Homo sapiens: one gene and its partner. The protein of the gene in region 2 interacts with the protein of the main gene of each other region in a pairwise test. Each region holds a gene or a part of one and is shown on either strand. Other genes may lie near its edges.

Region 1 (7,663 bases), on a different chromosome or scaffold from region 2:
GGCCTCCTGCTCTTGCCACCTCATGGTCTCCACTTGCCACCTTCCCTCTGGGCACCTCCAGGCCTGTGGCCCCACTTCCACGCAGTGCTGTCTTCCGGCACAGAATTGTGAGTCTCACTTCATCATCCCTCCATAAGTCCACACACTTGCCAGGATCTCTTTGTAGCGGAGCATACATCCTTGCCCCTTAGCTTTGGGCTTGGCCATGTGACTAACTTTGCCCAATGGCACATGGCAAAAGCAACAGTGTGACAGTTCTGAGCTAAGCCTCAAGAGGCTTCCCATGGTTCCACTTGCTCTCTTCTCCTTTGCCAAGAGAATGTGCCCCAGCAGCCCTGTGATTCCAGGAGAAGGACAGGAGATCTGTGGAGCAGACTCAGAGCTGCAGATCTGCAAACATGAGCAATAATAAATGATTGTTGTTTGAAAGTATGGAGTTTTAGAGACATTTGGTACACAGTGTTCTAGTGGTAATCCAACCTCCCAATCTGTGGCAAATTCAACATGTCTGAGGGAAGATCTGATTGGATCCTCTGGTCACCACCCAAAATGCAGCTGCTCAAAAACCAGTCACCCATGAGCCAATGATCACTCTCCTGTCCAGTCTGTAGATGGCTGCTTTGGGCTGGGGCACTCATCTCGGCTCCAGGCAGTTGTCCCATGATTACAGGGCATGTGACAAAGCCTGGTGGCCTGTTTGAAGGAATCATCTCTGGCCCCTTGTGTTCAGAAGGGGTATAAATGTGGCAGAAAGGAGTTTCTCTGATTCTCTTGGGTTCTGAAAAGTAACAGCTGAACTACGAGAAATAGCACATAAGACTTTGTCTGCATGTGGCAGTCAGAACGATTCTCAAGCTGTAAACGCCAGGATATAAGAAATGTGACATTCCTTACAACTCGATTTAGTAACTATTTTGAGCCTCATTATGCCTAAGAGGGAAAAGACGAGGCCCAAGTTCACACAGACAGTTTGGCAGAGCTGGAGTTAGAACCCAGATATCCTGGCTCCTTATTACAATATCCCTTTTCCTGCCTCGTCAGTCTTATACTTGGAAGGAACTCCAGGTCCCATCTCCAAGCCAGTAGAGCCCCTACTCCAGTCTCTTTGATCATCTGGGCTATGCTTCTGCCCTCCATTGACTGAGCACCCACTGCTTGGAAAAATTCTAAACAACACCTTCCTCCTACTGAATCCCAGTCTGCTTCCCTTTGTCCTATACCCACTGTATAGGACAAAGGTAGTGATGTACAGCTACCGCTGTAGTGATGCAGGTGAACCCTAAAATTGGGGCTCAGTCAGGGGAGGTTCTTGGCTTCATAAAGGAAAGAATTCAAGAGTGAGCCAACAAAGTAAAGTGAAAGCAAAGCAAGTTTATTAGAGCAACAGAGTACAGGAAATGACTGCTCCATAGACAGAGCAGGGCTACCCCATCAGCACAGTAGCCTTTGTGGATTGCTGGCTGACTATATTAATAGCTACTTTTTATTATATGCTAAATAAAGGGTAGATTATTCACAAATTTTCAAGAAAAGAGGTGGGGTATTCCCCAGACTGGGGGTTCCTCCCCTTTTAAACCATGTAAGGTAAGTTTCAGGCATTGTCATGGCATTTGTAAACTGTCGTGGTACCGGTGGGAGTGTCTTTTAGCATCCTAATGAATTATAATTAACATTCCGTGAGGAATGAGGGCAACTAGAGGTTGCTTTCATTGCCATCTCGATCTTAGTTGGTTTTGGCTGCCTACTTCATGGCATCCTGTTTGAACAGATCCTGTTTTGATCAGTGGAGTTGTGACTGGGATTGTAACCAGTGCTCGGAGAACAAGTCTTGCTGATCTCCTACCTCACTAGCTCTGTCTTCTGGTGCTACAATAAATATACACTCTTTTCTCTTTAACTTATAAACACTTACTGTAATTTTAAGTTCTATAAATTCTATTGCATTCTTTTTCAAATCTGCCTGTTAAAAAGTGTCTCTTTTGGCCGGGCACAGTGGCTCATGCCTGCAATCCCAGCACTTTGGGAGGCTGAGGCAGGTGGATCACTTGAGGTCAGGAGTTTGAGATCAGCCTGGCCAACATGGTGACACCCCATCTCTACTAAAAATACAAAAATTAATTGGATGTGGTGGTAGGTGCCTATAATTCCAGCTACTTGAGAGGCTGAGGCAGGAGAATTGCTTGAACCTGGGAGGCAGAGGCTGCAGTGAGCCGAGATTGCACCATTGCACTCCAGCCTGGGTGACAAGAGTGAAACTCCTTCTCAAAAAAAGAAAAAGAAAAAAGTGTCTCTTTTTTTGTATGATTTTGATTCCTTCTTGTATGCCTCTTCTTTTCAAAATACTTTTCTTTTGAGACAGGGTGGAGTGCAGTGGTGCAATCAAAGCTCACTACGGCCTCGACCTCTTGGGCTCAAGCAATCCTTCTGACTCAGCCTCCTGAGAAGCTGGTACTACAGGCACGTGCCACCACACCTGGCTAATTATTGTATTTTATTTTGTTTAGATAAGGGGTCTTGCTATGTTGCCCAGGCTGGTCTCAAACTCCTGGCCTCAAGTAGTCCTCCTGCATTGGCCTCTCAAAATGTTCGGATTACAGGTGTGAGCCACCATACCTGGCCTCAAAATACTTTTAATTATCTTCATCTGAAGTTCTTGGGGGAAGGGGGTGAATGGTGTCTGTTGACTCTCATTTATGGTGAATGGCTTCCTTGTGTGTTCTTATATGAGTTCATCTTCAGGGGAGCTCTATCTGAGGATATTTTGTGTAGCCAGATTGAGGGCAAGTTTCCCTAAACTCGGCTGAGTTTGCTTTGCCAGTCATTTCACATCTTTATCTGGGGTCACTATGCTAATTCTTGGTTTGGAGTTTCTAGTGCATGTGAATAGAATAAATTTATATATATACATTTGCAGTCTCAGTTCACTGCAACCTCCGCCTCCTGGGTTCAAGAAATTCTCCTGCTCCAGCCTCCTGAGTAGCTGGGATTACAGGCGCCCACAACCACACCCGGCTAATTTTTGTATTTTTAGTAGAGACGGGGTTTCACCATGTTTAGCCAGGCTGGTCTCGAACTCCTGGCCTCAGGTGATCCGCCCACCTCGGCCTCCCAAAGTGCTGGTATTACAGGCGTGAGCCATCACGCCTGCCCAATAAATTTATATTTTAAAAGACCTATGTGAGAATAGAGTCTACATATTTTCATCGTAGCATTAATTTGATTGTTTGTTTCCAATGACTACTAGGATGTCAGCTCCAGGAAAGCAGGGCCTTTGTTTCTCTGATTTTGGTTGATAACCCCAGTGTCTAGAGCAGAACTCGGCACACAGTAGACATTCAATAAGTGTTTAGCGAAAGAGAGAATTGAATACCTGCTTCACGGTGTGATGATGTCAGTGGCATTTGAACCAGAGTAACTCCATCTTGAATAGGGGCTGGGTAAAATGAGGATGAGACCCACTGGGCTGCATTCCCAGATGGTTAAGGCATTCTAAGTCACAGGATGAGATCAACACAAGATACAGGTCGTAAAGACCTTGCTGATAAAACAATTGCAGTAAAGAAAGTGGCTAAATCTCACCAAAACCAAGATGGCCACAAGAGTGACCTCTGGTCATCCTCACTGCTACACTCCCACCAGCGCCATGACAGGTTACAGATGCGATGACAACATCAGGAAGTTACCCTATATGGTCTAAAAAGGGGAGACATGAATAATCTACCCCTTGTTTAGCAGATCATCAAAAAATAACCATAAAAATGGGCAACCAGCAGCCCTCAAGGCTGCTTTATCTATGGAGTAGCCATTCTTTTATTCCTTTACTTTCCTAATAAACTTGCTTTCATTTTACTGTATGGACTCCCCCTGAATTCTTTATTGCATGAGATCCAAGAACCCTCCCTTGGGGTCTGGGTTGGGACCCCTTTCCTATAACAATGGGAAGAATAAATGGTGTGTCAGGACTGTGTTTGCCTGCAAGTAGCAGAGTGTTCCATTAGACATCGGGTCTGTTTTCTCATATAGATGCTGTTGCCGAGTCAGGGGTGCAATGATTTCTAATGGCTCTGTGATTTTCTTGGGCTTTGTCTTATGGTCGCAAGACAGTTACCATAGCTCCAGACATTACATCCACATTCAAGGCAGAAGGAAAAGGGAGAAAGTAGGAGTAAAAGGGAAGCAGCAGTGACATTTTCCCTTTTGTTAGGAAGGTAAAAGTTTTTCTGGAAGCCTAACAGCAAATTGCTGCTTTGATCTCATTTGCTGGAAATGGGTCACATGGGGATTCCAGAAACAAGGAAACTTGGAAAGTGAGCATTTCCTTTATCTGGACTCTATAGATAAGTAAATGAGGACAGGGACTTGGGACACCCGTGGAGGTATATGCCAAATGAGACATATACATAGTTTATATGTAAAGCACAAAGCAAACCCTTAGAAAAGAGTGCCTATTTTCATAATAACCATATTGTTGCCATTTAAAGCTTTGCATTCTCTGTGATCCTGTTGGCATCACATATTCTTGGCTTCTGGAACAGCAGGCTCCAAGGTACTCGGACCCATAATGGTCTCCCTCCCTTCCTCCTTGTTCTGTTCAGAGCACTAAAGCCCTTTAAAAAAAAAAAAAAAGCCAGATTACATTTTTCAATGTGAGCTACTTCCTGCTCTCATTAACTCCATCTTCAGTGATTTGGCCAGAACCTGCTGCCAGTCTGAAAGAGTTGGGGGAATGTACAAGTCAAAGATCCCTCGGGCCCAGAACCAGGTCAGTGTCAAGGTCACTCCTAAGAACACTGAGATGAAAATAGCAGAAGAGCCCAGCCCGAGTCTTGGGCAGACCTTGGAGTGGCTGAGAAAGGAGCTGGTAAGGTTTTGCATTGCTTTTCCTTGATGCCCCGACTACATATTTTCCAAAGATCTCTGGTTTTCCTTCCCGGGTCCCCCCTGGGGCAGAGGCTGCAGGCTACGGTATGGACCCTGCAGTCTCCCCTCTGGGACCTACCACACAATGCACAATTGTGATCTCAGGTTCAGGGATAAGTAGGTCGTGGCCTATATGGGAGGTGCTGGGTGTGGTGCTGGCCAGACTGGTTTTAGAATGACACTGAGTCCTCCGTGTGTGCTGAGTCCTCTGTGTGGCTCTAGCAGGGGATTTATCTCTTTGAGCCTCAGTTTCCTTATCACAAAATGGGAATAACAATAGTACCAATATCATATGGGGTATTGTAAGGATTCACTGAAGAGATGCTTGTAATCCTCTTAATGAATACTTGGCACCGTGGTGCTGGCTATTATAACCCTGACCCAGATGGACATGCGTACACCCAATGTCTTAGCCTGGGTCCCCTAGAAAGCAGAGGCTTGGACAAGGATTGAGAAACTAGCACTTTATTTGGAAGTACAAGCCAAGGGTGGTGATAGGGAGGAACATAGGGTGTGGCAGCAGAGGCCAATGCTATGCCAGGCAATTACGCCAGACATTGTATTACCAAGCAGCCTACGGCTTCAGAAGTTGCCTTAAGGAGGCCCAGTGGGTGTCTCAGCAGCTGAGATGCTCTGCAGGGGTTGAAGGAGGAACTGCACATTGGGGGAGAGAGAACGAGAGGAAATTCATCTGCCCAGCTCGTTCCTGTCTCTCATTTCCCATTGGCAAGGGCCTCCCCCATGGAGCACTAACTCTCCTGACCCGATGTTATGTTACTTGGTCCTGTGGTTGCTGCTCAGGAAGCCAGGCTTATGCCTTTCATTATGGTATTTTCTCCAAGTCCGAAAAAAGAGGGGTGCCCCCAAGTGTGTGGGGACACCAGCCAGGAGAGAGGAGGCAGCTCAGGGAACCTCAGAAGAGGTTTGTTTCTCAATATACACACCTCTCATCCTGGGGAGAGACAGACAGGATTGTCCAAAAATGACCTTTCTGGGTTGCCAGGCAACAGGCCAGCTGGGACCCAACCCTGTCATCACCCCAGAGGAAGGGCTGACCCAGTAGGGTTTCTCATGGGACCAGGGAATTCCAGCAGCAGGGACTGCAGCTTCCCACAGTCAGCAGGCATCCAGCACTGGGCAGCTGTCTTCCTTATGCTCCCTGAAACTGTGGGTGCCTGGATGCCTCATCACCACCTCCGTGCTGGGAACCCCACTGTGGTCTTGTAGGCGCATACCCAGAAATATGTGCAGGAGGAAAACCCTAAAATCGAGAAAACACAGAGTGAATGTTTTCTGAGGAATTAGGAAAAAATGGGCCCAGGACCACTCGCTCTGCAGCCTGAGTCGTCCCAGTGTTCTGAGGGAGGCCGACTACACCTTTGCTTCACGTCTTTCCTTTTTTTTTTTTTTTTTGAGATGAAGCCTCACTCTGTCGCCCAGGCTGGAGTGTAGTGGCACGATCTCGGCTCACTACAACCTCCGCCTCCTGGGTTCAAGTGATTCCCCTGCCTCGGCCTCCCTAGTAGCTGGGATTACAGGCGCATGCCACCACGGCTGGCTAATTTTTTTGTATTTTTAGTAGAGACCGGGTTTCACCATGTTGGCCAGGCTGGTCTTGAACTCCTGACCTCAGGCAATCTGCCCACCTCGGCCTCTCAAAGTGCTGGGATTACAGGTGGGAGCCACTGGGCCTGGCCTCACATCTCTCTTTCTAGCTACATATTCTCTTGGCAGTGTTACTCATGCTTGAGTAGAGGATGCAGACTTGGTCTTCTTACTTGTAATCAGCTTGTCACAAAAATGAAAACACTATTTTTAGTGGGGAAATAATGTTCATAAGTATCTCTTGCAAAGAGAGACAGAGAAAGAGAGAGGCTGAGAATCTGTATATCTAACCATGTGTTGCCCCGACCAGCTTTGGAAGGAAAAACAGAAGCATTTGCAGTGGCTGCCTCTGGAGAAGGACGCTTGAGTTGAGGGATAAAGTGAGGTGGGTGGGAGAGACTTTTAAATATATGTCCTTTTGTAGCTTTTAAATTTTCTATCATGTGTTAAGAATTACTTAGTCAAAAAATAGAATTTTAACATTTTTAAAGAGAAAGCGAACTTTGGGAGCTGAGTTGAGAGGATCGCGTGAGCCCAGGAGTCTGAGACCAGCCTGGGCAACATGGCAAGACATTGCCTCTACAAAAAATAGCCGGGCATGGTGGTGTGCACCTGGAGTCCCAGCTACTCGGGAGGCTGAGGTGGGAGGATCAGTTGAACCCAGGAGCTCGAGGCTGCAGTGAGCCGTTATTGCACCACTGCACTCCAGCCTGGGCAACACAGTGAGACCCCGCCTCAAAAATAAATAAATAAATAAATAAACAGAAAGAAAAAGAGAGAAAATGTATGGGAAAAAATTCTCAGGAAAAAATGGGAGAAAGAATGGAGATGGCTGAAGATGACAGGAGAGTTCTAATGCAGCAGTTCTCAAACTTTTGGGTCTTAGGAACCCTTTATGCCCCAAAAAATTATTAAGGCCACCAAAAAGCTTTTGTTTACGTGAGTTATATATAACAATACTGACTGAATTAGAAGCCAAAGCTGAGACATTTTTAATATATTTACTAATGCATTCTAAAATAATAACAAATTCATAATATGTTAATAAAACATTACTTATTCAAAATAACTATATTTTTCAAAGCAAATATTTAGTGGGAAGAGTAGCCCCATTTTACATTGTTGCAAATTGCTTTAA
Region 2 (7,957 bases):
AGAGAAGAAGGCTAGGCTGACCAGTGGGGAATTCTGCTCAGGGAGACTGATTGAGTACCCAGAGTTATGAGTCCCACCTAAATCAAAGGTTAATGAAATATCAAGTAAGATGTGGAAGTACAAGATTCATTAAGCCCAAATGTCACTCAGAAGATACTTAGTGTTTACTATAGGACAAACATTGGGCTAGGACCTTAATGGTGAACTAACAGAGACTCTGCCCTAAATTGGTAATATAGTAGGCTTTCAAGCAAACAGGCAATTATATGTGCTAAGATAGAGTTAAGCAGAGAATGCTATGGAAGCATGTAAGAACAGTTAATCTAATCTGTGTGGCTTTGGGAAAGCTCTAAGGATGGAATGTTAAGACTTCTGCTACTAGTTCGAATACAGAAAGATGCATGAAAGCCTTTTATTTAGTGGTAATAAGAAATAACCAGATAAAAATCATACTTTTTATGGGGCTGTTGAAAAGCCATGTATGTAAGACCTTAATGAAATAAATTCTATAGTCATGCCTATGTTTGGAGGAACATAGTTGAGCAGAGAGCTGTGGCATTGCCATGCCCAGGGAGAAGGGCGTGGTCTGGATACAAGTAGATGGAAGAACAAGCCTGCAACACTCTAGGAGACTTTGCAGAGTTAAGGAGAAAGTGGCTAAGACTTTGCTACAAGCTGGTGAGACAGACTTGGGTCTGGAAGGACCTCAATCACGAAAATAAATCACTTGGGCCTACACCCTACCCCTAAGATTGCTAAGAAAGCAGTAATGGAGGAAATGTTTTCGGTAAGTAGAATTCACTAAATCTTGCACATTCTTATGGTGCTTGGATTCCTGAGCCCTGCTGAAGCTGAATCCGAAGGTGAACCAAATGATCTGAAACTATGGCCCATCCCTCTCTAACACAGACAAGATCCAAGAGCTCAGTCCTTTGCAGGAGGTTGAATTGAATTAACTGCAGGTAAACTTAATCTAAAGCTGCAGCCCAGCATCAGCTCAATTCAAATTGTGAATGAATCTGAATGTTCCATTTCTCACTGAACTTTGTTCTTTTTTTCACAATGTCCATAATAAAATTAAAAATTATAAGACATGCTAAAAAGCAGGAAACATAACCCATAATTAGGAAAAAGTTGTCAATAGAACCAGGCACATAGATGAACCAGAAATTGGCATTATTAGATAAGGACTTTTTAAAAACTTATAAATTTGGTTTTTTTAATATAGAGGAAAAGATGAATGAAGGGAATTTCAAGAGAAAAACAAACTCTAAAAAACAGATTTTTAGAAAAAAATACATCTGAAATCAACTTATTAGATGAGTTCTGGAACTAAATTGGAAACTAGAAAATAGTTAAATTGGAAACTAGAAAATACTTGAAGATAGGTTTGTAAGAATTATCCACACTGAAACACAGGGAGAAAAGAAAATGATTGGGGGGAAATGAGCAGAGCACCGTGATCTATGGGCAAAATCAAGCAGTCTAACATACAAGTATTTTTGAAGTCCCAGAAAAAGAGAAAAATGACAAAAACATTTTTTGAAGAATTAATGGCCAAAAATCTTTCTTCCAAATTTGATTTAGAACACCAACCCACAGATCTGAGCAGCTCAGCAAACTACAAGCAGGATAAATACAAAGAAAACCATACCCATACCCCACGCACATTATATTCAAACTTGAAAACCAAGGATAAAGGAGAGAAGATATGTGAAGAATGAGTAGGAGTTAGCCAGGCAGGGGTTGTTGGGAAGCAGGGGAGATTGTTCCAGGCAGAGGGAAGACAACATCTTGAAAGACCCACACACAGCAAGCAATTCCAGGAATTGAAAGAAGTTATTTGGGGCTAAGGAGAAAGTTATAACAGTGAGAGGTAAGGTTAAAGAAGTGGCCAAGAGCCACAGAGAGGACCTGTGAGCATAGTATCTGAGGGAGATGGGGAACAAAATTATATCCTGAGTAATATAATCAGATTTGTCTTTTTAAAAATCACTATGGCTACAATGTGTGGAGTAGCTTGGAGAGACACAAAATGGAGGCAGGAAGAGGCTATTGCAGTAACCCAGGCACAAAAGTGTGTTGTACAGAACTTGAGATATGGCAGTAAGGATGGAGAGTTACAGACTGATTCAAGAACTACTTAGGAAGTAGAAGAGGTAAGATTTGATGAATGACTAGATGTAAAGGAGGATGGAGTAAAGAGTGACTGTTAGACCTATGCAACATTTCCAGGTTCAGCCACCTACCCTCAAGTCACATTCATTACCTTGTACCAAACAGAATGTCCCGAAATGCAATTCTGATCATGCCACCCCCTGCTTAAAAGCTCTTCTGTAGCTCCCATCATTTCTCTGCTCTAGATCTTTCCATGACTTCCCATCATACCCAGAGTGAAAGCCAAAGTCCTTATGATGTCCCATAAAGCTCTGCATGATCAGGTCTCCACATAACTTTTAGCCATCATGTCCTTCAGTTCCCCACCTTGCTCACTCTGCTTCAGCTATACTGGCTTCCAATGTAAGGTCTGGGTTAGATATATAAATGTGAGAAACTCTAGAGATTGGGGACATAAGAAGCAACCAGCAAAAGAAACTGAAAGGAAATGACCATAGTGATACAAAGAAAACCAGAGAAGATCTGCCTTCCTGAAAGAAAAATTAAGAAAGTTCAATCAGGAGAAGGTGATCACGCTAAGGTTAAGCTGGGCAACGTGCAACTTTAAGAAACACCACCCACACCCAAATAATTGCTACAGATGGCCTATGAATCACATTAGATAAACATGGACTATAGTATCAAATCTGGCATAAAAGGCCCTTAAACGAAAATTTTCTGGCTACGTCTCCTGAGGCAGAATAGGGTCTGGAGGCAGGGAACCTAACGCCGATTCACGCTGACTTCCTAGAACTAAATCAAAAGGTAAACCCCAAATTTCCACACCTAAGTAACAAAAGGACCAGCGGCTACTCCCTTTGCAAATCCCCACCTTTTCTGACAGGCAGATGGAAATTGAAAGTACCTCAACCAATCAGACTGATTGCGGGCCAAATCTTCCTTTGCATAGAAGTGCAACTAAGTAACATCACTTTAGCCAATGATTGGTTGCTTTCCACAACCAATCAGATGTTTGTATAGGAGTATGACCTTTGTCATTTTACTTCAGCCTCTGATTGGTTGCTTTCCATAACCAATCAGACTGATTGTGGGCCACCACTTCATTTGCATGAGGAGAACACCAGTGTCCAATGGGAAATCTCTAGTGGGTATTTGGACCTAAGAAGATTCTGTATCCAGTACACTGTGGAGCGTACTTTGGTTTTCAATGAATCTTTGCTTTTGTTGGTTCATTCTCTCCTTGATTTGTGCGTTTTGTCCAATTCTTTGTTCAAAAGAACCTGGACACCCTCCACCAGTAACACTCTTACCTCATTTCCTACCATTCTCCATTTATGGGATTATTTGCTTCAACCAAACCAACAGGCCAGGTGCCAGTGGCTCACACCTATAATCCCAGCACTTAGGGAGGCCAAGGCATGAGGATCATTTGAGCCAAAGGGTTTGAGACTAAGGTGAGCTATGATCCTCACTGCACGCCAGACTGGGTAACAAAGCGAGACCCCCCATCTTTAAAACAAAACTGCCCACTGCAGTCTTGGTCTTCATCTTTTTGATGCTCCCTGTAAGTGGCAGTCACTTCCGTAGGTTTGTGCCTCACATCTAGTAGTTGACATTTTATTTCATGTTTTAAAAACCTTTGGAAGACCAGGCGCGTTGGCTCACGCCTGTAATCCCAGCACTCTGTGAGGCTGAGGCAGGAGAATCGTGTGAGGCTGAGGCAGGAGAATCGCTTGAGGCCAGGAGTTCGAGACCAGCCTGGGGAAATAGCGAGAACTTGTGTGTATACACACACACACGCTTTGGAAGTAGGTCTTATTTCTCATTCTTCAGGGCATAAACCTCTCCCGTGCAGCAATCAAACTCAATCTTTGTTTTCCCAGTAAAAGCCTAGCAGAGTATATGGCACTTAGGATTAACAACAACAAAAAAAAAATTGTTGCTCAAGGAATGACGGAGTTATTATATAACAGACAGGACTAAGTAGGGATAACCTCAAAAGGACGCAACTTCTGGCTTTGTTTTTTTGTTTTGTTTTGTTGCCTCCTTTCTAAGATTTCAGTGCTCTAACTGCATCCTTGCACCACCGCGCGCCACCCCGAAATTGACGTCACAATCTGGACTAAAACTACCAATCCCAGAATGCCGAGCGAGGAGGCGGGCTCTCCGGAAGCCGCCGAGTGATTAGTGAGCGGAGAAGCTTTCTTCCGGCGGGAAGGGCCCCGGAGGCGGGCACTTGGGGGGAAAGTTGAGACGTGATTACCGGGTTGGGCGGGCCCCATCTGGGAGGGGTTTGTGGGTGAACTCGGGGTCCACCGCCCGCTGAGGAGATGGATGAGGACGGGCTTCCTCTCATGGGGTCAGGCATAGACCTGACCAAGGTTTGTAAAAGACGGTGCTAGACTCCCGACGAGCCGGGAGGAGGATGGGGAAGACGCAGCTTTCCGGGGAGACACCCACCTTCCGAGTCCCCACCCTGTCACGGCCTCGGGCCCTTGTGACAGGCCTGTGGGGCCTCAGGAGGGAGAGCCCCACAGTCCACCTTGAAATGGGGTCCCTCCTGAGCTGATTAAGGAGACGGTGTGCATCTCCCAACTGTCGCTTCCCATCTCGCTTGTCTCTCTGCCGCCGGCGACACACGCCGGTTGCGATAGCTAGCCCTACCTCTTATTCAGCCCCCAAGATTTTGTGTGTGTTTATGTGTGGTGCTTTTTGCCTGCCAAAATTCGTACCAGTGAGTCTAGAGCCTGTTCTCAAACTTTTGTGCACCTCTGTCATCTTCGGACACCCCACCCACAGCTTAGGAAACAAGTTAATGACTATTCCCAGTCCTTCAAGAAATTCATATCACACAGCAAAGTGCCTCGTGATTATGTCCAAATATGAAAAGATTTGCACTGTGTACGTTCCTCCTGTATGAACCATGTTTGTTTTTACGTAACACAGGTGCCAGCTATTCAACAGAAAAGAACGGTGGCTTTTCTAAACCAATTTGTGGTGCACACTGTACAGTTCCTCAACCGCTTTTCTACAGTTTGTGAGGAGGTAGGTCCGGTGATACTGGTTTATAGAGTCGCCTGGAAATCACCTTTCACTGCTGAGACTGACAAATGGAGTAAAACAAGAATTACAGTCTTTATTCATGTACCGTGACCTCTCATCACCCAATTGTGTTAACACATCTTAGGTTCTCTTTTACTCTGTTAAAATCAATCCTGCACCCCTCCTCTACTGAGTTAGTGTTCTAGAGGTCCCTGTGAGATAGGTCAGTCAGGCTTATTGCGATTAAAGGGAACAATAGGAAATCTAATTTTTTTTTTTTTTTTTTTTTTTTTTGTGAGACAGGGTCTCACTCTGTCACCCAAGCTACAGTGCAGTGGCGCGATCTCGGCTCACTGCAACCTCCACCTCCCGGGTTCAAGCGATTCTCCTGCCTCAGCCTCCTGAGTAGCTGGGATTACAGGCATGCGCCACCATGCCTGGCTAATTTTTTATATTTAGTAGAAACGGGGTTCCAACATGTTGATCAAGCTGGTCTCGAATTCCTGACCTTGGGCGATCCACTAGCCTCGGCCTCCCAAAGTGCTGGGATTACAGGCGTGAGCCACCGCGCCCGGCTTCTAAAATTTCACAGTTGAAAACAGTTTTTATTTTGCAATTTGTCATTCGTTCCCGTACCCCAAAACCACATTGTTTAAATTTATTTTACATTCTGGATCTAAAAGATGGCTAGAGGAGATAGCCTAGAAACATAACTTTGGCATCAAATATGATTATAGAAATGAAAATATTTTCTGCAAATGACTTGTGATGTAAGGATTAAGTACCCAACTAGGGATTAGGTACCAGAACTGGCACAGCAGTGCGCACCTGTAATCCCAGCTACTCGGGAGGCAGAGGCAGGAGGATCACTTGCGCCCGGGAATTTGAGACAAGACTGGACAACAGAGAAACTCAGTGTTTTGTTTTTGTTTTTGTTTTAAAAAAGAGGATTAGGTACTAGATCCAGGATCCAGGGAATCCCTGTCTTTTAAAAAGCCAAAAGAGGATGGGGAAGACAATGGGAACCATGGGTTGAAATTGCATTTAAGGAAAGAGCAAAGTAAATTATGGGACTTAGATATTCACAAGTAAGTCTGTTGAACATTCTGTCTTATGTAAGGTATAGCCTTAGCAATTAGAGTTTTTGTTAAGTGTGTTACTACTATTAATAAAAATTGCATGGAGATGGGAAAACTATTTTTTACTTGTATGAAATTCCAGTTATTGTTTTGTCTAATTATCAACATTTCTTCTGCCTTCTAAGACAAAGTAAAATATAGTAATTGGTAGAGTAAGGGGCTTAATTCAATTTAGTTTTATATGTTAATGGCCAGAAACTAGGTGCTTGCTTCCAGTCAGTTTTATTTCGTTCCTACTATCTCTCTAAATAATTTAGGATATAAAATTGACTGAATAAAAACCAGTAAGCCAAGGTTTTCACCCTTCGATTTTTATACCAGGGCAAGATGGAGAAGTATCTGGAAAGGGACTGTCCCAGGATTACTAGCAGAAAGAAGCAAATACTCTTATCCCCATAGCCCTTATCATCAAGCTGAAAAATAAAGAACAAAGCAACAAGTAAACACACCTATGAAAGCAACTTGTTTGAGCTGTCCTGAAACAGGGATAGCCCTTCACCTTTGTAGTGCCTAATGGTTCTTGAATGAGAGCTGTTTACTGACAACTAGATCAAAGAAAACAATAGTCATCTCATTTATTGATAGATTATGATCAAAGCCTCATGAGTCACTCTTTAACCTCCTCCTGTTCCTGTCTCAACTTCTCTGCAGCTGTTCTGGCTGTATCTGTATTCTAGTACTTCTTTGAACTCTAGAGAAAAGTTTGTTCATCAAAACCTCATGAAGTTTAAAGGTAGTCTATTGCCTTTTGTCCTTTTTCAAAAATCTTATTTCTTTATTTAAATTGACAGGTAAAAATTGTATTTTTATGATGTACAACATGATGTTTTGATATATGAATACATTGTGGAATGGCCAAACCAAGCTATTTAACATAAGCAATGCCTCACGTACTTACTTTTTTTTGTGGTGAGCACACTTAAAATCGCCTCTCTTAGCAATTTTCAATACAATATATTGTTATTAACAGCAGTCACCATGACATGTAGGAGATCTCTTGAACTTATTCCTCCTGCCTAACTGAAATTTTGTATCCTTTAACCGCATCTCCCCAATCCTCTTAACCCCAAGCCCCTGCTAACCACCATTCTACTCAATATTTCTATGAGTTGTACTTTTTTATCCTCCATATATAAGTGAGATCATTCAGTATCTGTCTCTGTTTGACTGGCTTATTTCATTTAACACAATGTCTTCCAGTTCATTTATGTTGTCACAAATGACAGGATTTCATTCTTTTTTAAGGCTAAATAGTATTCCATTGTGTATATATACCACTTTTTTTAATCCATTCATCCATTGATGGACACTTTTGATTCCGTATCTTGGCTATTGTGAATAATGTTGCAGTGAACTTTCAAGTACAGATGTCTCTTGAATGTACTAATTTTACATCCTTTGGATATATACCCAGAAGTGGGATTGCTGGATCATATAGTAGTTCTATTTTTAATTTTTTGTGGAACCTCTGTACTATTTTCTATAATAGCTGTACTAATTTACATTCCCACCAACAGTGTACAGAGGTTCCCTTCATCACATATATGGTTTCCAAATATAGTCTCCCATTCCATAGGTTCTCTTCACTCTATTGATGGTTTCGTTGGCTGTGCAAAAGCTTCGTAGTCTTTTAAAATAATTTTTAAAAAATAATTTAA

The links. Proteins that work in one complex are often made in the same cells at the same time.
Region 1: the proteins of WASHC3 (region 2) and C20orf202 interact in binary tests that used the Homo sapiens proteins (3 or more experiments, as listed by UniProt).

What each region holds. Positions count from the first base shown.
Region 1 is NC_000020.11:1,198,791-1,206,453, forward strand, and holds the start of C20orf202 (uncharacterized protein C20orf202), read left to right. Parts: upstream 1-4,663; 5' UTR 4,664-4,795; coding exon 4,796-4,861; intron 4,862-7,663.
Region 2 is NC_000012.12:102,058,454-102,066,410, reverse strand, and holds the start of WASHC3 (WASH complex subunit 3), read left to right. Parts: upstream 1-4,419; 5' UTR 4,420-4,448; coding exon 4,449-4,499; intron 4,500-5,064; coding exon 5,065-5,163; intron 5,164-7,957. UniProt on the Homo sapiens protein: Acts as a component of the WASH core complex that functions as a nucleation-promoting factor (NPF) at the surface of endosomes, where it recruits and activates the Arp2/3 complex to induce actin polymerization, playing a key role in the fission of tubules that serve as transport intermediates during endosome sorting.